3 separate regions of the Homo sapiens genome follow, and all the other regions are linked to region 1. Evidence: fine-mapped expression QTL. A gene starts in region 1. Each other region holds a variant in brackets. All regions are shown on one strand. Distances are between the middles of the regions.

Region 1 (8,312 bases):
GGAATGAAACATTAAAAAAGAAGGTGGGAAATAAAGATTAATAATATGAGTACAAAATTCCACCTGAGAAGGATTTTAAAAATTAAAAAGGCTCACCCCGATACTAGCTCCCTTCAGTTCACTAATATCAACACTTTTCTAAGGGTAGGGTCCTCACCTTTAACAAATGGCACTTTTGGTCACACCCACTGCCTTCCGCTCCTCTGCCTCTAAAAGTGATACTTCTCCTTGGCTTGGGGAGGAAGTGTTGCGTGGCCTGCCTCTTCCTTCATGAAGCCACAAAGTGCCACTGCGTGAGTTCCGTGGCACATTGGAACACAGTGTACCCGCCTCTGGGCAAGAGCCGTGGAAATCCACACATGAAGCCAGGTGGTCCTGCAACACCCAAACAACCAAAGTTATTTTGTGTAGTATATGTTATGCAGCATAATAGAGAATTCACCAGAATTTCTGATGGGAGGTTCCAATAGAAGTTCATTGTGTACTTATATGTGACTTTCAGCTGTCCCTAAGAAACCAACAGTGGAGTCAGTAGGAGTTTACTTTCTGCAGTCATTAGGGGCACCTCACCGTAAACCTTAAAAAGGTTTAAAAAGCTCTGAGATCATGGGTATAACAGGGCTCTGAAGTCACAAAGAGCTGAGTTCAAATTCTGGTTATCAGATGCATGAATGGCTTTTGACAAGTAACCTAAATGTTTTGAGTCTGTTTGGCCATTTATTTAAAAAGCATTTCTCAACATCTGGTTCCAAGAGAGCCTTTATCAAATACATAAAGGAATGTGTTAAAACTGCAGATTCCTGGGCCCCACTCCAAAGCCAATGGGTCAGAACAGCAGCCTCTAGGACTCAGAAAAATGAAATTTTAACAAGCTCCCCAAATGATTCTTATCTGCATTAAAGTTTGAGAACCACTGATATAAGAGAATGGACCTGGAATGCAATCAATCTTTCAGATATGTTAGTTTTCCCTCTGGTAAGGAAAAGCAGTAAGAAGATATGTGAAAATGAGATTTTAAAAATGTATTTGAAAGGTTTTTGATTCCATCATTTAGAAATGTATTCTAAGAAAATAATCAGAGAGGTATACCATGATATTCAAACCAACATTGCTAAAATAACCAAAAATTGAAGAGTCTAAATGTTAACAATAGCGATCTGATTTAATTAATTATAATACATCCATATGATGGGACATATGCTTTCATTAAAATGTTTACAATAACTACACAGAAAAATGCTCATAACAGCTAAGTAGAAAAAAAGATATAACAATGTATATGAAATAAAGACTGGGTGTGATGGCTCATGCCTGTAATCCCAGCACTTTGGAAGGCCGAGGCGGGAGGATCACTTGAGGCCAGGAGTTCAAGACCAGTTTGGCCAACATGTTGAAACCCCTCCTCTACTAAAAGTACAAAAATTAGCTTGGCATGGTGGCGCATGCCTGTAGTCCCAGCTACTTGGGAGGCTGAGGAAGGAGGATCACCTGAACCCGGGAGGCGGAGGCTGCAGTGAGCTGAGATCATGCCACTGCACTCCAGCCTGGGCATCAGAGACCCTGTCTCTAAAAAAAAAAAAAAAAAAAAGTATATAAAATATAATACCAATTATGCAATACATGTGTGTGTGCATACCTTTTACATACAAAATGATAGTCACTGGTGGTCATCTCTTAATTACAGTATTAGGAGAAAACTTCTATTTCTTTTGTATCTTCTAATTTTTCTAAAATGGAGTTTTCATCAACAGAAACAATATTGTTTTCTGATAAAATGACTACATAGTTTTCCTTTAAAATATAGTAGTCCTTGGTTTCACTTTCTGCGGTTTCAGTTAACCACAAAAAAATACGGTAAGATATTTTGAGAAAGAGATGACATTCATATCTTTTATCACAGCATATTGTAACTGTTCTATTATTAGATATTATTCATCTCTTACTGTGCCTAACTTATAAGTTATACTTTAGTATAGATATGTATGCATATATAGAAAAAAACAGCGTATATAGGGTTTGGCACTATCCACGGTTTCAGGCATCCACTGTCAGTCTTGCAACATATCCCCCAAGAATAAGGAGGACGACTGTACATTAAAATTTAAAGATAACATCACAGACAGGAATTATAACTTTTAGTTACATAAGTTTGACAATTCATTCATATAACCTTTAAGAAAACCTGTTCTAAATAGGCCAAAAAGCCCCAATCTCAAAGAAAAACTTCAGAGGCTGTTAGTAATCTTCAGTGCCAGAGAACACTGTGGTCTGTGTTTGAAATGCCTATTCCCAGGCTCCAGCCCCAGAGATTTTTATTTCAAAGGCCTGAAGTGGAGTCAAGAAATTGATATTTTTGCCTGGGCCCATGGTACACATCTGTAATCCCAGCACTTTGGGAGGCAAATGGATCACTTGGGGTCAGGAGTTCCAGACCAGCCTGGACAACATGGTGAAACCCCATCACTACTAAAAATACAAAAATTAGCCGGGAGTAGTGGCCTGGGCCTGTAGTCCCAGCTACTCGGGAGGCTGAGGTAGGAGAATTGCTTGAACCTGAGAGGTGTAGGTTGCAGTGAGCCAAGATTGTGCCACTGCACTCCAGCCTGGGCCACAGAGCCAGATTCCATCTCAAAAAAAAAAAAAAAAATTATATTTTTATCGAGAACCTAGGTAACTCTGAGTCACACAGCCAGGTTTTAGAAACCACTGTTCACTGATGGCTTAAAACAAAGAATAGAAAACCATCACTGATTTGCTTTGGATGTTTCCACTGAATAAAAGATCTTCAAAGAGAAGGTTAGTTCCCAAAACATTTGCATGCATCTCTGGAAAAGGCAGGCATTACTATTAGCTCGGCTTAAAGTAGATACTAAATACTTATTATATTAAGTGGCATATAAACTACAACCACAGAGCTGATTTTATTGCCCTCTCTATCCACTTCCCCTTAGATTATGTAGTCAAACAGTTCAATCCAGGTCAGTACTTTTTCACAACGTATGTTTTCAATCTGATCAAAGCTATAGGTAGACGAAAGTTATTGCAATTTCATGGGGTTTACAATTTCCATAAAGAACAAACCTGCTCTAGAAGACAAAATTCCAAAAACTTCTGAACTATATCCAATCAAGCATTATCTCCTCTCCCAAGAGAGACCTTCCAGCACTCCCCGCCTGGGTCTCGGGAATAGCCCTCCCTTCTGAATCCCAGTTTCTCAATCCGGACCCTGAATCCTATTCATCCTGATCTCTCCTTGATTTTCTTGCATCTTAAAGGTGTTATTTTCCTTTCTTTAAAAATTTAAAAAAAAAAAAAAAAGCCACAACTCGCCTCCACGCTCAGATTACCATTTTCTTTTTCCTCCTTTTCATCACCAAACGGCTGAGGAGGTCTACCAGTACCCTCACCACCGCCACGTCCCCATCCCTCACCCACTCTGGAACACTTTGCAACAGTGTGCACACCCACCCACTGTTGATAACTACTCTCCTAAGGCTACCAACCCATAGGCCTCTCCTCGATGCAGAGTCCTTTGGACTTTGTCTGTTTTTTTTCAAACCAAGAATTAACAGCCCTTATCTAATGGAAGACAGAACATCAAGGGATACAGATCAACAAACACTGGATGGCTGTCTCCGAAGTCTTTTATAATCCAGGTGACCAACCCCTTTGGAGAAAGGTCAAAGGTCGCCGGCCCCTCGCAGGACTGGGGCTGGTGTCAGCTGATCAGTTTCCCCGTTGAAACGCTGGAGAAGGAGGGTTTCCAGGAAGAAGGGGCTTTTTCAGGTTGATGCACCCGGCGGAGAAGTGCTGGGGGCGACCCCGGAATCGTGACCTGGGGTATGAATGAGCCCTGGATTTTTTCCTACCCGGCAGCACCTCGTCTGGCTCCCCCGGCCCGCAGCAGAGGCGGCGCCGCGCGGAACGCCAGCACCTGAGCCGGTGCCTCCCGCCAGGCTCGGCCTCCGTAGGCCCCCGGCCCGGCCCACCGCTCCGGCTGAGGCGGGACTGCCCCACGGACGCCGCCACGTCATCCCCACGCCCGCCCCGCTACAGCCCTGGGACTGACCCCGGCCGTCGCCCGGCTACCCTCGCACGGCGCCCGTGTCCAGGGAACTGCATTTCCCGGGCGCCGGCGGAGCCAGCGTACTCACCCCGGAGGCGGCCGCGGCGAGCTAGCACTGCCCGCGGAGAGGGGAGAACGCGGAAAGCAGCTCGGGGACCGCCCCAGCCGCCCGGGAGGCGGCTCTTGAGTACGAGCTCCGCCTCCCGCCTTGGCCGGAGAGGCTGGTCCGCCCGGCTCTGCACGCGCCTGGCGCTCCACCCCCGCCAAATCGACCACACCGGGCGCTGGAAGGAGCACCGGGAGGGAAACGGAGGGTTGACGCCTCGGCCTCTGGGTGGCTTTAAAACCCTGTGCCAATAGTAGACTGGGTGCTGAGCGCTTCCCAAATTCCATCCCCTTAAATACTCACAAAGCAGTAGGAAAGAGATAGGGACCCTTCCATTTTACAGAGTGGGAAACTGAGACTTTAGAGAGGCTAATAAACTTAATCACCCTGCGAGATTTCAGCCCTCTCAACTGCAAAAATGATAATAATAATAATAATATTTTTCCCATGTTGCAGGTCTGAGAATATTAAATGATTTTTTTAAATCCGTATTTCTTCAAAGATATTATTACAGAAAGCAAAGACAATTATATTTACACTAAAGATTTGAGTGAAAAATTATGGTAGGCTCTGTTTAGGCAGTCAGGATAGCTAGATTCTCTAATGCAGTCTCCCACTGCACTCACGGGAAAGTAGTAGATTCTCCAAGAACCACACATCCACTCCACCCAAAAAGGAACAAACCATAGCTAGAGCCAGTGCTGGGCTCATTAAGCTTCATAGCAGGAAATCTGAGGCTATACTGAGGCCGCATAGGCCCAATGTAGGCCCTTGGAAGCTGGAAAAGAGGGCCACCTAGTGGCAGTTGAGGATAGGTCAGTGAAATAGGTCAACACTGCTCCTGAACAAGGTCCAGTGTGAAACTTATTTTTTTGTGTTCCCTTTGTAACATGCTGTAAGGGTGTATAACCACATTTAGTGAAAAAGGACATTACTGGATTTCATCCAGTGGCGTTATACAATCAGTTACTTATACCCACATAGTCCCCAGGTCTTGAGCATATGATGCCTGGAAGCATAATATATACCTTTTGCAAGAATCACTCAGCTTTTCCCCTCCCCCTCCCCCTCTCTGTCTCCCTCCCCATCTCCCTCCCCCCTTTGCACGGTCCTCGTCTCCCCTTTGCATGGTCTCCCTCTGATGCCGAGCCGAGGCTGGACTGTACTGCCGCCATCTCGGCTCACGGCAGCCTCCCTGCCTGATTCCCCTGCCTCAGCCTGCCGAGTGCCTGGGATTGCAGGCGCGCACCGCCACACCTGACTGGTTTTCGTATTTTTTGGTGGAGACGGGGTTTCGCCGAGTTGGCCGGGCTGGTCTCCAGCTCCTGACCGCGAGTGGTCTGCCAGCCTCGGCCTCCCGAGGTGCCGGGATTGCAGACGGAGTCTCGCTCACTCAGTGCTCAATGTTGCCCAGGCTGGAGTGCAGTGGCTTGATCTCGGATCGCTACAACCTCCACCTCCCAGCCGCCTGCCTTGGCCTCCCAAAGTGCCGAGATTGCAGCCTCTGCCCTGCTGCCACGCCGTATAGGAAGTGAGGAGCGTCTCTGCCTGGCCGCCCATCATCTGGGATGTGGGGAGCCCCTCTGCCCAGCCGCCCAGTCTGGAAAGTGAGGAGCGCTTCTTCCCGGCCGCCACCCCGTCTAGGAAGTGAGGAGCGTCTCTGCCTGGCCGCCCATCATCTGGGATGTGGGGAGCGCCTCTGCCCCACCACCCCGTCTGAGAGGTGAAGAATGCCTCTGCCCGGCGGCGACCCGTCTAGGAACTGAGGAGTGTCTCTGCCCCGCCGCCACCCCGTCTGGGAGGTGAGGAGCGTCTCTGACTGGCCGCCCTGTCTGAGAAGTGAGGAGCCCCTCCGCCGGGCAGCTGCCTGGTCCGGGAGGTGGGGGGCAGCCGCCCAGCCAGCCGCCCCGCCCGGGAGGTGGGGGGGCAGCCCCCGCCTGGCCAGCCGCCCCGCCCGGCAAGTGGGGGGCAGCCCCCGCCCGGCCAGCCGCCCCGTCCGGGAGGTGGGGGGCGCCTCTGCCCAGCCGCCGCCCCGTCTGGGAGGTGGGGGCCCCTCTGCCCGGCCGCCGCCCCGTCTGGGAGGTGGGGGGCCCCTCTGCCCGGCAGCCCCGTCTGGGAAGTGAGGAGCCCCTCTGCCCGGCCACCACCCTGTCTGGGAGGTGTACCCAACAGCTCATTGAGAACGGGCCATGATGACGATGGCGGTTTTGTCCAATAGAAAAGGGGGAAATGTGGGGAAAAGAAAGAGAGATCAGATTGTTATTGTGTCTGTGTAGAAAGAAGTTGACATAGGAGACTCCATTTTGTTCTGTACTAGGAAAAATTCTTCTGCCTTGGGATGCTGTTAATCTATAACCTTACCCCCAACCCCCTGCTCTCTGAAACATGTGCTGTGTCCACTAAGGGTTAAATGGATTAAGGGCAGTGCAAGATGTGCTTTGTTAAACAGATGCTTGAAGGCAGCGTGCTCGCTAAGAGTCATCACCACTCCCTAATCTCAACTACCCAGGGACACAAACACTGCGGAAGGCGGCAGGGCCCTCTGCCTAGGAAAACCAGAGACCTTTGTTCACATGTTTATCTGCTGACCTTCCCTCCACTATTGTCCTATGACCCTGCCAAATCCCCCTCTCCGAGAAACACCCAAGAATGATCAATAAATACTAAAAAAAAAATAAATTTAAAAAAAAAAAAGAGAATGTAGGCCAACAATAAGCCACAGGATAACATCTCTGTCTGCCCAAATCACATTATGCTGAGGAAGTTTAATAATAAAGGAGAATAATAAAGGAGCCAAGCAAGTTAATCTAAAAAAAAAAAAAAAAAAGAATCACTCAGCTTTTCTATATTTGGTAGCTGGTAGGTTATTAATTGGAGAAGTTGGGTTATTGCTTTCAGTAAGTGTAGGAAAGCAAGTAGCAGTGATATCTACAAAATTAAAGATAGCTTTCCAATCTGCTTTTGAGGTTTTAGGGTGGCTTTCATTTCACAGAGAGGCATTGGCATTAATAAAATTGTTTCCTAGGGGTTTTTTTTTTGGCATCAGTCCAGAAACCCAACAGTTGCTCTAGTTTTTCTTGTTAGAGCATGAGCCTTAGCTAAAGCCATCTATAAATTATGGTCCCATGGATTTCCCAGCAGGAAATATGGAAAAAATAGAAAAAAAGATAAGATAGTCATGATAGCAGAGAAGTCTTGATCCATGATCTTGAGAAAGCTGTCCATGTCTAGGATGCCATCTGCTTCTGGGGAGAAACTTCCCTACCTTAAGATCTCCAACAGGTGTATAATTCCAAGAGTTTGAAGGGGCTCTTTTGAGTTACAAGGTATGGACCAAAACTCGAGGCCCTGAAGTTTTACTGTGGGTGGTGAGAGAAGTACATGATATAATCTCTTCTAATGGGATACAAGAGCAGTTTTTCTCAGATGGGATGTTATTTCCAGAAGACTCAATCTCTGAGTTCTAGATTGTGAAAGGTTGGTTGTACTCAGTGTATCACAAAAGGCTTTTACCTGGGGAAAACACACTTTCATATAATGGATTAAAGCTTTGCAGTATTTAGTTACAGCAAAGCTTATAAGAGCAGGAGATACATGAGAGTCTATTATTAAGGATATAGGTCTTCCCAGAACTAGTTTTTTGTCTACCCCATGATGAGTAATGGAGTACAGAGTTTTTAATAATGGAAGATTTAAGGACTCAGGAAGAACCAGGTGGCCATATGGGGCCTCCATGAGTCCACACTTAGCAATAAATTTACATCCTTTTAAATATGTTTTGGTTACCTAATGTTAAATAACAAGTTAATGGGTGCAGCACACCAACATGGCACATGTATGCATATGTAACTAACCTGCACGTTGTGCACATGTACCCTAAAACAAAGTATAGTAAAAAATTAAAAATAAAAAAAATATGTTTTGGTTTGTCTATCTGTTCTAAGATGGCAGGTAGTAGGCAGTGCTAGTGTGCCTCTCCCACTTGGAAGGACAGAACAGTGTGTAGCAATTAACACTGTGAACTTTTATTCCAAGAACCACTGCAGGAAGTTACCAGGAAATCAAAAGAATTCGCAGATCCTATGAAAGGAGCACACCACAGCAAAGTCTGTGAGACAGGCAAAAAACTGAATTCTCAGT
Region 2 (8,312 bases), 34 kb before region 1:
ATCTAGGATGAGAACTGGGATCAGAACGTGGGGAACACAGAAGTTGCTTCTGAGTGGCAGGTAATAAGTGATGCTTTGGAGCAGGATGGATTTGGTGTCACATCTGGCCCAGTGATGTTGCTTATAACGAGATTACTCTTAAAAATCTGATATCTAGGCCAGGCGTGGTGGCTCACGCCTGTAATCCCAGCACTTTGGGAGGCCGAGACGGGCAAATCACGAGGTCAGGAGATCGAGACCATCCTGGCTAACACGGTGAAACCCCGTCTCTACTAAAAATACAAAAATTAGCCGGGCATGGTGGCGCGTGCCTGTAGTCCCAGCTACACAGGAGGCTGAGGCAGGAGAATGGCGTGAACCCGGGAGGCGGAGCTTGCAGTGAGTCAAGATCGCGCCACTGCACTCCAGCCTGGGCGACAGAGCGAAACTCCGTCTCAAAAAAAAAAAAAAAAAAAAAAAAAAAATCTGATATCTAACAAAGACATGGAACCAACCCAAATGCCCATCAGCAATAGACTGGATAAAGAAAATGTGGTCCATGCACACTATGGAATACTATGCAGCCATAAAAAGGAATGAGATCATGTTTTTGCAGGGACATGGATGAAGCTGGAAGTCATCATCCTCAGCAAACTAACACAGGAACAGGAAGCCAGACACTGCATGTTCCCTCTCATAAGTGGGAGTTGAACAATGAGAACACATGGACAAAGGGAGGGGAACAACACACACCAGGGCCTGCTGAGGGGTGAGGAGTGAGGAGAAGGGAACTTAGAGGATGGGTCAACAGGTGCAGCAAACCACCATGGCACACGTACATCTGTGTAACAAACCTGCACGTTCTGTACATGTATCCTGTTTTTGTTTTGGTTTTTTAGAAGAAATAAAAACAAACAAACAAAAAAATCTGTTGTCACCTAAGCCTGAATGAACCTAACATCCACTTTTTCCAAGAATGAGATGTTTCTAAAACAATCCCTTGTTTATTTTTCCTTGTTTTTTTCTATTCCAGTTTTGGGTTCTCCTGGGTACCATGTTCTACTGGAGCAGAATTGAATATTAAGCATAAAGTGTTGCCACCATACCTCCTTCCCCGAGTGACTCTGGATTTGGTGCTGGAACCAGCTCTCTCCTAATATTCCACGTTTGTGCCCCACACTAACGTGTGTGTCTTACATTGCCAAGTCAGATGGTACGGACTTCCTTTAGGATCTCAGGCTTCTGCAGTTCTCATGACTCCTACTTTTCATCCTAGTCTAGCATTCTGCAACATTTATATAGACTGTTGAAAGGAGAATTTGAAAAATGCATAATAACTACTTCCATCCCTGCTTATTTTTAATTTGGGAAAATAAATACATTCGAAGGAACCTGTGTTATCACAGTAACCCAGAGCTGTATTTGGCTAGCAATCTGCCTGTATCTCTCACTATTATCTAAAAGAAACCTTCCAATGCTTCTGTTGATCTCAGTATTGTCAGGGGAACAGAGAAGTTGGGAAAAGATTACTGAAATATACCTTTTGCATTTCTTTCTAGAGTAGCTCCCATATATGGAGATGGGTGATTCTCTTGATGCCACCTTCAGATCCTTTTATTCTCCAGAATAATTCTTAACAGTGGTTCAAATTTCCTTTCATACCTTGAAGTATGTGTTTAGTAGCCTCAATTCTCCATTAATTAAAAGTGTGGGCTGGGCGTGGGGGCTCATGCCTGTAATCCCAGCACTTTGGGAGGCCGAGGTGGGCAGATCACCTGAGGTCAGGAGTTCAAGACCAGCCTGGCCAACATGGTGAAACCCCGTCTCTACAAAAATACAAAAATTAGCCAGGCGTGATGGCAGGTGCCTGTAATCCTAGCTACTTGGCAGGCTAACGCAGGAGAATCACTTGACCGGGAGACAGAGGTTGCAGTGAGCTGAGATCGTACCTATTGCACTCCATCCTGGATGAAAGAGCCAGACTCTGTCTCAAAACAAACAAAAAAGCGTGGGGACTTCTGGGGACAGACAAGGTGCCTGTTATATATTTACTCAGTCTTTGCCCTGAATGGTCTCAGCTTGAGACCATTTCAAACTGGAGAGAAGCAAGCCAGCCAATAGAATGGGGTGATTTACAGGGATTTCTGTTTACTGTCAAAATATTTCTCATCTGCACTATGTTTCCATTTGTGGTCCTGAAGGAAATTCTTATAACTCAACATTTGTCTGGTCTTATAAGTAAAGACAGCTTTAAAATCTGTTCACTTTCATTTTTACCAATGTCATATATGAGTCTAACAAAATGGGTTTTCCAACAGAAAAGCCTAAAGCATGGGAATTAAAGTGGAGGAGGTAGAAACTGCAGACACAGGGTGTGGCTTCCTGCTGGATGCTGGCAAACGCTGCCTTACAGTTAAACGGTGGGAACTTCTACGCTCACTTTTACTTTTTGCTCCTGCTACACTTACCCCAGAAGCAGTGATGAGACTAATGCTCTTCAAATCATTTACCTCATGCAATTGAAAGCAGTGGAAACCTCGCCCATGCTAACTGCAGAACTGTGTGTCCTTCATGAAGAAAACACTTTGGCGTCCTGCTCCCAGCTGACTCAGACGCAGGCAGCACCCCCATCCCATGCCCCCACCGGGTACCTGTGAGTGAGGCTGAGCGTGGGGGTAGGGGAAAGACAAGGAGGATTGGAGGGGACTTGCCTTGGTTGTAAAGCTGGCGCAGGAGCCCGATCCCTGATTCCCAGGAGAGGGAACCAAATGTCCATGTCCTGACAGCACAGCCAGTTCACCTCTCCTTGGCCTGCCTTGTCTCTCCTGAATGAAGATCATGGGATATCGAGATAAATGACACCTGTGCTTGGCTGAGAAGGTTCTCTCTGTGGTCCTTTAGAAGACAGGAGGACAGGGAAGGAGCTTCCTCTGGGCAAAGCTTTGAAACAGCCGTGCTCTCATTTTCCTCCGCACACTCTCTCCTGTGTGTTCTGGTGCCTTTTGCCTCCACCACTCACTGGGCTTTCCAGTGCCCTCACCTCCCGACTGCCTGAGCAATTCCTGCCCCAAACCCACTCCTACTTCCCTTCCAGGGCTTCATGCTCCAAAATTCTCTCTACATACAAAATTCCCCGCCTCCC[TCCC/T]CCCCCCCCTTTTTTTTTTTTTTTTTGAGACAGAGTTTAACTCTTGTTGCCCAGGCTGGAGTGCAATGGCACGATCTCGGCTCACTGCAACCTCCACCTCCCAGGTTCAAGCGATTCTCCTGCCTCAGCCACCCAAGTAGCAAAATTCCCTTCTTATGATTAGATCTCGGCTAGGTTAGGGGAAGGCCTTTTTGGAAACCAATTCATACTAAGGAGTGGGTGACAACTCAACTCCACTCTCTCAATCTCTATGACGTTTTCTTGATAACTGAGGTTGATCTCTAGTTGGTGGAATCCAGCACAGCAGTGGGAGCATGAAAGAGCCATTGCGGGACAAGATGGCCCACCTACTATTCCTTAAATCTTATCCCCTGACTTCCTTACCAAGCAATAACTAAAAGAGAAGGGGCCGTCAGTGAGCCACTGCCCCCTGCCCCCTCTCCAGCTAGTTTCCTTCCTGCAGCCTCAGCCTCCTTTATAGAAGGTGCAAAGTCCACTATAAATGGGGGCAGGCTCTGCTCCTTCCAAAACCAAATAAGGTCCTAAACACAGGCACCCACTATGTCCTGGGGCTCCAACACTTGAGGAGGACACACCTTTCAGCTAAGACAGAAACGAGGTCTGAGGATCACCCTGCAGAGAGTCTGGCCATTCAGGACTCCTGTGCTTCCCTCTACAGGGCTCTCCTGTTTTAACCTCAGGACAGTTTCTATTCTGCCCAGTTCCTGCTCCCATGTCCCTCCACCTTCCCTGGAGGCCCAGCCTTGCCCCTCTTCCTTCTGGCTCCAGGGACTGGAAGTGGCCCCAAGCCAATGCTCAGGCAGGCCCAGGCTCAGCCCCAGCCCCAGCCCCAGCAAACCAGGGAGGCAAAGGGGAACCAGGCGGCTTGGCTCTAGGGATCTGGCAGCTTGCTGAGTGTGAGACAGGCCCAGACACAACTATCTTGTGAAACTTCCCTCTTCAACACCTGCTTATCAGGTGGGCAAAGAATAATTACTAACACCAAAAATGTGTCAGGCTAATTTGGGTAAGTTTTACTTGATTGCAACGCCAGGCGGGTCATCATGCTCTCTTGGCTGGCCATTTCCATCCCTAGATTGCTCCACAGGCTCCTGGCAGGCAAACAGTCTGTCATTTAATTTTTAAAAGCCCATTGCTCCTACTTGTCAGCCTTGTAGCTTTTCTTTCTCTACATCAGCTGGAATAAACAGGAACTGCTTCTATTTTAAACAGAAGATCAGATATTTTCTGGCTACCCATAAAAGGAATACTAGTCATGTGAACTTGAAAATCTAACCTCCTCTCAATCTCACACCCCCACCCCAACCAATCTGACAACCTGTGTTGTGGTTGAGGAATTAGAAACTAAGCTGGTTTCTCATTTCTATTGATGGAACAATTTCCTTTCTCCTTCTGGGTCTAGTATTTCCTCTAGTGTCTCTTCCAGATCCTTCTCAGCCTGTATAAGTGAGACTGAATCAAAGAAGAACCCCAAAGAAGGGTAGCTATAGACTACTGAGTTTGCTATTGTATTATAAGGCTCAAGTGGCCAGATCCCGTAAAGGGATCCAGAAACATTGTAGAGAAAGGCAGCCTTGCCGAGAAACAGAGATCCCATACACTTCTCCAACCAACCCTTCCCCCAGCACACGCCCCCACTCCACATTGTTAAGACACAAATAGTCAAATCCTGGAGTTTGGAGAAATGGTACTGTCATGCCCTACTTTCTAGTGGTTTCTACCCTGAGTTCCTCTTGAAAAAGAACTACAGAGCAACAGATGCTGGTGAGGCACTCACAACTAGGCTCAACTATTCTCCTGTTAGACATAAACAATCTCACAGAATACCAGCCTCATAGGGTCACTCTGAGACCATGACAAAACGAGGCAAGCCAAGGCCACTGCATAATTTTGTCTATGCATAGACAAAAACAAGGTCACTGTGCCACCCACAAAAAACCAAACACCTGCTTTCTTGGCTAAAATTAGTGACTGCTATGTCTTCCCAATTACAGCTTTATTCTCTTGCTAGTCTCCCTCCCTACAAATAAAACTTATTGAAATAAACAACCATGGACTTGCCCCTGCTTTCTGATAATATCCAACAGAGCAAACCCTTTCTTGGACCCTCCCCAAATGACCCAACCAAAGCCCAAATGCTGTAATAATTCTAACTTCCTTCTACTGAGTTGCTTCATGGATCCCCCATGGTGTGTTCTCACTCACTGCAACGATTGCAACTAGTCACAATCCCAATTTTTTTCAAAATAGAGCTCTTGAATTTATTCCTCCAACTGAAATTTTGTACCCTTTGATCAACTCTAACCCAATTAATTTATCTGCAATGTGTTCCTGGGGGGTTTTGGCTGAAGAGCATTGACACTCTCCAAGTTAGTCTTCCAATCCTTATTTCCTCTAGGAAATAGGATGTATTTATTCCTTCCTGGTGTAGGTGTATTTATTTATCCATCACCATGAAGTGGTTAAGAACATGAACTCTGGAGTCAAAGTACTTGGCTCCAAATCCCAGCTCTTTGACAAGTCACTTAGCTTCTTGGAGCCTGCTTCAGAAAAACTGGTCTCTCCTCACACAGGACTGGGAGGATTCAGTAAGATACGTACAGTGTGCATCGGTCTATAAGAGATGCCAATCAGGAGGTTATATCAAGGAAACTGATACAGAGCAAGCACTTAGTTTATTATTATGTCCCACCCTTCACCAACCTCTGCTCCAAGCCCCCACATCTCTCTCTCATTCTCTCTCTCTCTCTCTCACACACACACACACACACACACACACTCACACTCCACACATGGGCACACAAGGTTTGATAATTTTATTTAAATCTTAACAATTATCAATGGAACAATGGAGGCTTTACCTGTACAGGTGTACTTCCTAGGGGTGGAACCTCTAAACCACTCCCTTGTGTATACTTTTAGAATGATCAGGCCCTCTCAGCAGGTATAAGATGGTTATGCATATACAAAAAAATCAACGAAGGTAGAAATAGCATAAAATATCGAAGGCACTAAGGATAGAGGGTTTTTTTTTTAAGTTATAGAATGTGATTGGTGAAAAAGAACTTATGAAATGTACCTGAATATGCTTCATCTTGCAGAACATGTTAATGGTTTTTGGTAGGGACTGCATATATGAATAGGATTGGGGAAAGTGAATTTCAAGTCTGGGAGAAAATGTCTTTTATCTCACTCAAGTCCATTCACAGAGCATTTTGGGGCTCCCAGGAAATCTATCCATTGGGGCTTGAGTGGAAGTGATGGGGGTAAGGGCAGAAAAATTACAGATGGAGTTGGGGACAAAGTTCTGAGAGCAGCTGAGAACAGGAATGCACTTTCCAGGGTCCAGACAATACTAACTCTCTGTAGGAATTAAGACAATGACACACATTCAGGAAAATTACCACAAAGAAGTAGAGAAGCCAAGAAGAAGGCAATATGATGTAATGGTCTTGAAAGTCAAAGGGCCCGAGTTTTGCTCAGAATCTGCCATTTGCTGCCTGTGAGACTCCTGGCAAGGCACCCTCCTGGCTGAGACCTCTACTTACTCAACTTACTCAACTGCCCTCTTACCTCAAGAGTCAGAAGCATCGGCCAGGCACATTGGCTCACGCCTGTAGTCCCAGTACTTTGGGAGGAAGAGGCAGGCGGATCACCTGAGGTCAGGAATTCAAGACCAGCCTGGCCAATATGGTGAAACTCCGTCTCTACTAAAAACACAAAAATTAGCCGGGCATGGTGAGGCATGCTTGTAGTCCCAGCTACTTGGGAGGCTGAGGCAGGAGAATCACTTGAACCCAGGAGGTGGAGGTTGCAGTGAGCCGAGATTGTGCCACTGCACTCCAGCCTGGGTGACAGAGTGAGACTCTGTCTCAAAAAAAAAAAAAAAAAAAAAAAGAGTAAGCGGCACCAATAAAGTGTGTGTAAAGATATCACAAACTGCAAAGCACTATAGAAATGAATGCCAGTATAGGTGAGGAAAAAAAATCAATGAAAACTTCAAAGTAACACACTCTTTGTGTTAGGTAGTTGTGATATCCAAATAGCCTGCCCCCACATAATCCTTAGCAATTATAGTAGGCATAGCTGTCTCTACAATATTTAAAACAGTAGGCCTCTTTGGCAACTATGAGAAAATGCACAGGGCAGGAACTGGAGGAAGCCAGTTCCTTTGAAGCCAAACCCCCTGCCCAGTGGGGAGGCAAGAGCAGGGAGGGAGGCAGCAGTGAGTGGGCAGGCGGCCTCATGCCCCGTGTCACCAGCCTTTGATGCCCCAGTGCAGGGAAAGTGTCACAATGGCAGTGTCAAGGTCTTAAAAAACTATCTTCCACCTCAAGAAGTTCCATAACAAGTCATTTAAGGGACTTTTAGATTATCTTGGTTGAAAGAATTACCTGAAGAAAAATAAAAGGCATCATTCAGTGGTTTCCAACAGTTAAAAAATTGCAGATGTCAAAAAAACACAAGAGAGTTTCTGCATGGTACTAGCTATACTCCATTTCCATTGAGTAAGAAATTGAGTTCTCAAATACAGATCTTCAAATTCCTTGCACACACCATTCTCTTCCATTGCCCTTCCCAACCATGATGAGGGAGGGACCTACAACCTCTCAATTACCGTCTGTTAATATGGTCATAGTCAAGCAAATTGGGAGAGAGCTCTAGACAAAGTTTCTACAGAAAAGAGAAGGGACAGTGAGGGAGAGATTTACTCAACAGACTACAGCCTCATTAGCAAATCTCCCAAGAATGAAGCTCCTTTACAAAGTTTGAGCAAAAAACATGAAAACCCTGAGTATTTCTCTGCTAAGTAAAGAAAAAAACATGGCCGGGCACTGTGGCTCACACCTATAATTCCAGCGCTTTGGGCACCCCAGGCAGGCAGATTGATTTTGAGCTCTAGAGTTCAAGACCAGCCTGGGCAACATGGTGAGACCCCATCTCTACTAAAAATACAAAAAAATAGCTGGGAATGGTGGTGTGCGCCTGTGGTCCCAGCTATTCAGGAGGCTGACGGGGGGAGGATTGTCACTTGAGCCTGGGGGGTGGAGGCTGCAGTTAGCCGAGACTGCACCTCCGCACTCCAGCCTGGGTGATAGAGCAAGACCCTGTCGCAAAAAGAAAAAAAAAAAAAAAAAGGAAAAGAAAAATAACCACTTTTGCTCTT
Region 3 (8,312 bases), 52 kb before region 1:
ACGCCTGTAATCCCAGCACTTTAGGAGGCCAAGGCAGGAAGATCACAAGGTCAGGAGTTCGAGACCAGCCTGGCCAATATGGTGGAACCCCATCTCTACTAAAAATACAAAAAAAAAAAAAAAAGCCAGGTGTGGCGGTGGGCACCTGTAGTCCCAGCTACTAGGGAGGCTGAGGCAGGACAATAGCTTGAACCTGAGAGGCGGAGGTTGCAGTGAGCCAAGATCGTGCCACTGCACTGCAGCCTGGGCAACAGAGCAAGACTCTGTCTCAAAAAATAATAATAATAATAAAAATAAACTTCTTGAAAGAAGAAATTGTCTTATTTCACACAGTACATAATCAGTACGAGTTGATATCGGTGCTGAATTTGGCCTCTACTGATTTCTGCCCTTTCCTCTCTATGCTTCTGTTATCTGAACTCCTACGTTTCACAGTCTATTTACTTTTGTCTCTAGTTTAGATACTAACCCAACTGGTCAGGAATAATGTCTGTACATACCAGTAATGAACTTTACAATGTGACTCAACCAGCTACATGAGTAAGTTTCCCCCTTGGGGGAGTTTGTGCAGTCTAACACGCAACAATAACTGGAAAGAATGAATGAAATTTCTAAGCAGAAAGAAATGAATGGCATTTCTAAGCAGAAACTACACAGAGACGCAATGGCCCAGATTCTTCCATTTCTCCAGCAAACATGAATTGAGTACCCACTGTGTGCCAAATTCTGAGCTAAAAGTGCTCATAAATTTTAACTGAACTTGTCACAGCTACCCAGGTAAACAGATAAAGGAAAACATTTAGAGATGTCTAAACTTACTTGGAAGGTTGTTAATACTTACAGTGTAACAATGAGGTTAAAATTTAGCAAGGCTTGAGACAAATAGAAGGTTTGCCTCCCACTGCTACCCTACAAAACTAGGACTTTGACCAAATTGACTGGTTTGCTATCTTGTGGGCACCTTGCTCTTCTGTCTCTACTCCCTAACTTTTCCTTTCTCTTTACCTGGAATGTCACCCACCCCCACCTCACTCCCACACATATCCACCTCTACTCTACATATCAAACCATACACATCCTGCAAGACTTACGTCTTCCCGCCTCAGGACTCTCACAATATTTCATCTCACTACATGTAGTATAATTGTGTGGGAATGCATCTTAGTTTCCCTACTAACGCAAAAAATCCTAGAATACAATAATCTCCCTTACATATCTTTGTATGCCTCAGAATGCATATTGAACCATTTAATACATTTTTTATTTACAGCAGGAATGCATGAATTGATTAATTAAATGTTGAGAGCTGTAGATGGCTTTTCTCAAGGTGCTTCAAGTGCAGAAGCCCAAGTGATTGACCCACACACTTACCTTTGTGTTCCTTCCAGAAAATCCTCAGGGAGGTGAGAGACCCATGTTCAGCTGTGTATGGCACCAAAGTCTATACATAGTTTCTGGGAGTCACTGTGGGCTGTGGGGAAGCACGTGGACTCTGGAGTCACACACACCAAGGTCTCTAGCCTAGCTCTGCCACTTACTGGTTGTGTGACCCCAGGGAACTTAATTTACAAATTTAAGCTTTAGTTTCCTCATCTGCAAAATGGAGCCTCCTCGCCTTTCTTCTTTTGCTACCGAACTGGGTTATGAGAATTAGATGCGTGCATGCAAAGCACCTGGTAGAGTGGCACACACCTGGCAGAAGGAAGTAAATTCTAGTCCCCGTTTTCACTTACCCTCATATACAACGGGGCACTTTTTTATTTGCCAACTATTTCTTTGAAGATAATAAAAGAGTCAGAAAATGATAGTTTTTAAAAGCACCCTGCAGTCCACATGGGAACCAACCACTACCTCTGGCCATGAGTTTACCCTTTGGGTTTCCATTTGTCATGGCCAAGGGCAGTGAGGGCTATGCCAGGGACCCTCAGTGTGTTTGGCCCTACCCAATCACCATCTCAGGTCTACCCCTTGTGCATTCCACCTTGCGGGGCTCAGTCCACCACTCAGAAGGATGCATTCTGCACACTCCTTGCCTGAAAGAACTCCTGAAAGGCACTGACCAGGCTCTGGAAGGCTATATTCTTTTCATTCTTTATAAAAGTTATGTGATTACCAAGCTCAATAATCAAATGTCCTTCATCGCTAAAAGATTATATGGCTTTGGTTTGGATGCTTTGGGAACAAGGAGGCAATACGCAATGGCTTGGTTTACTCATGTTACAGAAACTGTAGCAGTTATTTGGTAATGCTTTCAACAGTGCCTTCAGCTTGTGGGAAATCCCGAAGATGGCCAAAGACAACTCAACTGTTCGTTGCTTCCAGGGCCTGCTGATTTTTGGAAATGTGATTATTGGTGTAAGTAATGATTATTTTCCAGGAAATTCTGCACTTCCTGTAATCATAATTCTAGATGAATCAAAAGTAAGAGTTTAAAGGAAAATAATGCTGTGATTACTGGCTTCCTATATTTTTGCTTCATTTTAAGAAATGTGTTAGTAAATATGCTAGCTAGAATTTAACTGTATGTCAAAAGATCATGGTTGAAAAAGTAGATATTTTCCTCCCAACTTTAAAATATAAGTATCTAAAAGGAGTCATGTCAACCATAGTCAGTGTCTAAACACTCTGACTACGAACACACTTCACTATTTCTTTTCTATGTCACCTTGGTTTGATTTCCATGGGACTCTGCTGTTAAGGTTTTTTGGGACAGATGCTTGCATCTTGTTCTTCTCATACAGAGGCCAGTACCAGGGTGTAAGAATAATACAGAGGCCATACTGTGTGGGTCTGGTGGCATAGAAGAACATTTGTTTTGGAGTCCAGAGCTCTTGGCCCAGCTCTCCCTCTGACTCCCCATATGACTCTGGCCATCACCTTTCAAGGCTGAGATTCCTCATCTATAAAATGTGGGTGTTGGCAAAGATAAGCAGCAAGGTTCCTCTCAGCTGTCATTGATAAATATGACCAGGACCAGCTCAAATATTACAACCCAGAAATGTGGGTCATGACATGGGGGCAGGGGGAGATCATTCTCATACCAGAAAGCATTGTTTGAGTGATTCATGCCCCAAGGACATTGTGGATGGTCTGAAATTGTGTGGGTCTGTTACTAAATAGACAGAATAACATGTGAAGGGATGTATGCAACCAGTTAGTAGGATGGAAGTAGTTGTTTGATTTCCTGGCAATGGGGAGTTTAGATTAGTTGCATAAAGCCTGTGCAGGAAAGGGAGCCAGTCACTCTTACCTTCCCCACCCTCCACCCCCTTTCCCAAAGCTGCACTCCTGATGGAGCCCACCTTTCATTTGCCCCCAGTGTTGCGGCATTGCCCTGACTGCGGAGTGCATCTTCTTTGTATCTGACCAACACAGCCTCTACCCACTGCTTGAAGCCACCGACAACGATGACATCTATGGGGCTGCCTGGATCGGCATATTTGTGGGCATCTGCCTCTTCTGCCTGTCTGTTCTAGGCATTGTAGGCATCATGAAGTCCAGCAGGAAAATTCTTCTGGCGGTAAGACCTCAAAATTCTCTGGAGTTGTCTCCCTGAGCCAATTGTAATGGATTCTTTCTTCTTCACTGAGCAATGCTTTGGCTTTCAGTGGGGGAGCAGGAAGTACCAGATAAGGGGTGAGGAGGGGAAGACTTTCCCTGCAGTGAAATGGTCCACATGGAGGCAAAGATGCCCTCCACTATTGCAAGCCCAGAAGGCTCCAGTACAGAGAAGCCAAAGGGGAGACACCTGGGGGTGACCTAATGAGTATTTTCCATATTGTGCCTCTACAGCTGGTGTCTGCATACACCCAGTAGGTACAGCTAGGAGCTATATAGGCCAAAGGAGAGACACAGTGAGAATTCATTCATTAGATTTTTTTCTCTTGGCAATAACTTGTTTAAAACATTTTGATATTAATTAGGCATTAATATATTAGGATATAAAATATAAAATATGCATACATTTTTAAAAGAAAGTATAAGCTTTCAAAGATTTTTGAGCTCAAGGTTGATGATTCTGTATCATAGCCTATACTCCCCACATTATCATCCAATCTGCTTTTCAGGGACCCCAGAAAACCTTGATAAGCACCACTGTAGAGTGAGCCTTCAGCTCACACCTGCCTGTGGGGGCTTTAACTCTGTACATCAAGGAGAGGCTTCTGCCCCAAACCATAGACAGCAAGACCATGCCCTGCCTTTGCAGATGAAAGCAAATTTGCAGGCAGCAGAGCTGAGAAACCTGTTTCAGACGTGGACCCCTACTGTCTGCCCTAATACTTAGGGCAGCAGTTTCACACTATTATGGAACACGCCTC[C/G]AATCCCCCACCCCTGAAATAACCCTTTTATTCAAATGCTGCAGGACCTCAGTTCCCCCTTTATAGAATGAGTCCAGCAATGTAAGGTGCTTGTTAGTTTACTCTTCCTTTTAACTAACCACTGTCCTGGTTCCAATGGATTACAGAACATTTACATTCTCTGGTTCCTTAGTGTGCGTAAGTTCCAGGGCAAAAGTACCCACTTTTGGTGGGTGGGGAAAGGAATACAGGAAAAAGGGAGAGGAGACACAGGTGTTCCTAAAGACAAATTCACTTGCATCCCAGCCTCACTTTGGGCCAGCCATGTGCATGCCTGACAACCAGGAGAACTGAGCTGGGGAGGCAAAGGGGCTAAAGGAGGAAACACCTCACTGCATACCTCCTTTCTGGAGCGTCTTTACCAGGAGCCAGCAAAGCTCTTGGCAAGGAGCAAGGCAGCAGCTAACACAGGAAAAAAATGTTCTGGGGCCTCTGAAGGTGCTCCTGCTGTTGACTGTAGCCAGAGCTTTATTCTGGGCTGAGTAGTGAGGGCAACAGAGGGTCCTGCTCGGAGAGCCTCCCATACCCAAAGAGGAGGACAGTTTTCCCTGCCTACCCTGCTGACACTGACCACAGTGCCCCTTCTCCCAAGAGTGTGTGCAAGCCTGGGGAAGGCAAAGCTGGAACTCTTGCAAACAGTCCCCATCCCAGATTCAGAGGTCATTTGCTGTTCGGATATTTTCCAGCCAGAAATAGCATCACTGTCATGTGGAGGTATCATGTGCACACGCACCCATGTGCCCATGCTCACGCACACACACCACCACTACCACACACAGCAAATGCCATTTCACTCAACTGAACCAATGTACTTTGAGTGTGGGTGCGTGTGAAAGAACACCCACAAATGCTGTGCACTTGAAGCCTGCCTCTCCTCTGATGAGACTGGATGCTTGTTAGGAAGGACCCTAGATGTTCAACATTATCCAGTTCATCTTTTTCTGAACTCCGTGATTCTAAATTTTCAGCAAATTGTAAAGAAAATTTCTCCAAAATTCCAAAATTAAAGGGGATTTATGAGGCCCTATACTGTATGTGATACACTAAGACTCTCTTGCCACTCACTGAGCATGCACATGCATGTAAATGCACACATGTAAATGAGCATGTAAATGCTCACATGTGTGTGTGCACACATACACACCAGTTCATTCTCTTGTACTTGTTTTTCCCAGTTAAAATAGAAACTCAGGAAACTGGACTGAGGAAGGTCTGTATTCAATGGCTATTTGTTCTCTGGAGAAAAGGAGAGAATTGAGCTGACTAGCACCAAGCCTCAATCCAAGCCACTGGTCAATGAGGGTTTGTTGAATAACTACATGAGTGATTACATGATTATATGATAAATTTGCTGAAAAAACATAATTATTTGGGCAAGTCGCTCTTTGACGGGTAAATGTAATTCTTTTATCTCATTTATTTCCCTTCCAGTATTTCATTCTGATGTTTATAGTATATGCCTTTGAAGTGGCATCTTGTATCACAGCAGCAACACAACAAGACTTTGTGAGTACAACCTCAAAAAGCAAAATAATATGAATTATCATTATTATAACAACCAACATGTATTAACCCCTTACTATGTGCCCAGGCAATCCAATATGCACAGTAATAATACATCTATCATTTTACTTAATCCTCATAAATCTATGAAATAGGCATTATCACTCTGGTCATTTGAGAAAGGAAAAAAAATGAGACAGAAAGGTAAAATGACTTGTCTAAAGTGACATAGTTGGCAACTGAAAGAGCAAGAATTCTGAACCCAGATGGCCTGACTCCCAGGGCCCAAGTTTGTAATCCCCTGTGGGTTTCACCACTCTGCCATGGCCATGGGCCTTCCAATGGGAGGATCTCTGTTCTACCTCAGCTAAGACGTGCTCTCAATTCTACATCTTTCTTTCTCTCCCATTCTCTGTTTTCCTAGCCTAAGCCACCCTACAGTATGTGTTCCCCTGGCCTCATAGTGATTTCTTTTAAGATGAGAGTCTCTTCTCTGCATGGGGACTTATGCCAACCTCAGCCAGCTGTACTTGGTGCCTCTGAGTACAGTTTTGCTCCAGGAGAGAATGTTCAGTGTCCCCAGGAAAAGACAGAGAAAAATATTTTCCTCTCCTTGAAAATTAGCGTGCTATCTCTCCCTCTTGTGTTGCCTCTTCCTACTATAGTTCACACCCAACCTCTTCCTGAAGCAGATGCTAGAGAGGTACCAAAACAACAGCCCTCCAAACAATGATGACCAGTGGAAAAACAATGGAGTCACCAAAACCTGGGACAGGCTCATGCTCCAGGTAAGACCTGTGGTCTTGGGGAGATGCCATTTTTACTTACTGGTGGGAGTGGGTGTCATACACATGACTCAGTGGGACCCTATATTTTATTTCAAGCCATGATGATTAGCTTACATTTGTTGGAATGATTTTGTCAAGAAACTTAGGTTAATCATACACTCTCCCTCTTAGAACTCAGGTATCATTTACATTAAAAGAAAAATATTTTCTCTACCCCACAGTGAACTCGAGTGGTAATTACTGCCTGTTTCGCCTTTTGGGTACCTCTTCACAACTCCTGTGAGCTAGTCTTGCCAAGGACCAGGCCCTATATCTTGATTTGATCACCCAATTTTCTCCAACTGGCAATCATAGTTTATGTCCATGTTTATCTCCAGTGCCATCAAAAGTCCAAGTCTTCCAGAATATCCATCATCACCCCCACATTGCCCTCTGTATGCAAATTGTTATCCTCTACATAACTACCAATCTGACCTAGCTTTCTTACTGGCCCCTGCTCCTACTCCACACCCCACCACCAACTTTTTACAGTCTGTCATCAGCAAACTCCCTTATAGCCACCACTCCTTCTATGAACTCTTTACTATCTTTTTCTTGCTTCATTGGAAATTTGGCTATCTCCTGGGAGTGCTACCTGCCCTTCATTTTCCTCCCATATCCATGTACCATAGGACCTGGAAATTGGCTAGGTGTCCTTCTTGCTCCCCTTGGCTGCCATACTATTTGCTTCCTTGATCTACATCACCCCTTATCCTTCCTTGCCATTACTTACCAGCCTCCCTACCCTCAGTCGTTCTCCTGCCTTCATTAGGGATTTCAATATCTCACTTAACTATCTACCTCTTCAGTCATACTCCTGATATCCCACCTAGAAACTTCAGCAGCCACATGGATGACTCAGCAACATTTAGTCTCACAATTCCTTGTCCTACCCCATTCCAAAGATTTTGTCTTTCTCCCCACCTCCACCCTCTTCCATGACCATAGTCAGCATGCCATCACCAGTAACTGTGCCACTAAGAACATTCCATTCTCTGACCATTAATTTCTATCATTTCTTTCATTTATTCTAATATCTCAATTCTAATAATTTTATTCCATTAGGACCTCCAATTAATTGACCACTTTTTAACTTTTATCACCCCTTTCATGTTTTCTCTTTCCTCTTTGCCTAACCCATATTCAGGTCCAGCCCCATAGCCAGTCCTTCCCTACCCTTCTCTGTGGGTCACTCTTTCCTAACCAAGCCCACCGAGTAGAATATAGCTTTTTGCTCACTCTTCGTTTATACTCTAAGAGCTAAACATTGCTGAGAAAAGTCACACAACCATGATCATTTCAATTTAAACTTGTGACCACAGAGCTCAAATGGGCACACAATATTTCCTAGTATATTTTCCCAGAAAATTCACTTGTCACTATTTCACATGTTCTTCCTTCATGCCTGCCACACCTCTTCTCACCCTCCCTCTCAGTTGATGACCCGACCTCATATGTTTTTAAGAATATAGAAGAAATTAGACAAGAACCACCTCATCTTTCTACCACCAAATCTACATTGATATACACCTGTGCACTTTGCCTTCTCTCTTGTTATGTCACACAGGCTGTCCTTTGTCCAGCTCTTTTGATTCTGTTCTGCATTCCATCTCCTTTGCCCCAA

What was found. PIP is the estimated chance that this variant, and not a neighbour inherited with it, causes the effect.
Region 2: its variant is fine-mapped to the expression of B4GALT4 in whole blood (INTERVAL, PIP above 0.99).
Region 3: its variant is fine-mapped to the expression of B4GALT4 in whole blood (INTERVAL, PIP above 0.99).

Annotation. Positions count from the first base shown.
Region 1 is chr3:119,236,696-119,245,007 of GRCh38, forward strand. It overlaps B4GALT4 (beta-1,4-galactosyltransferase 4), which reads right to left and starts at 4,183. Exons shown (of 8, transcript NM_003778.4): 1 at 4,155-4,183; 2 at 158-375. The region is part of intron 3 of B4GALT4-AS1 (B4GALT4 antisense RNA 1); the gene reads left to right. RefSeq lists silencers at 3,870-4,349, 5,000-5,049.
Region 2 is chr3:119,202,905-119,211,216 of GRCh38, forward strand. UPK1B (uroplakin 1B) reads left to right here. Exons shown (of 8, transcript NM_006952.4): 8 at 1,013-2,239. The coding sequence ends at 1,063. Among named protein-coding and RNA genes, the nearest start is that of B4GALT4-AS1, 19 kb to the right of the region's middle. RefSeq lists enhancers at 3,443-3,969, 3,970-4,494. The variant TCCC/T (reference allele first, on the strand shown) is at 3,122.
Region 3 is chr3:119,184,456-119,192,767 of GRCh38, forward strand. UPK1B (uroplakin 1B) reads left to right here. Exons shown (of 8, transcript NM_006952.4): 2 at 2,259-2,355; 3 at 3,320-3,520; 4 at 5,790-5,864; 5 at 6,527-6,649. The coding sequence starts at 2,287. Among named protein-coding and RNA genes, the nearest start is that of UPK1B, 15 kb to the left of the region's middle. The variant C/G (reference allele first, on the strand shown) is at 4,320.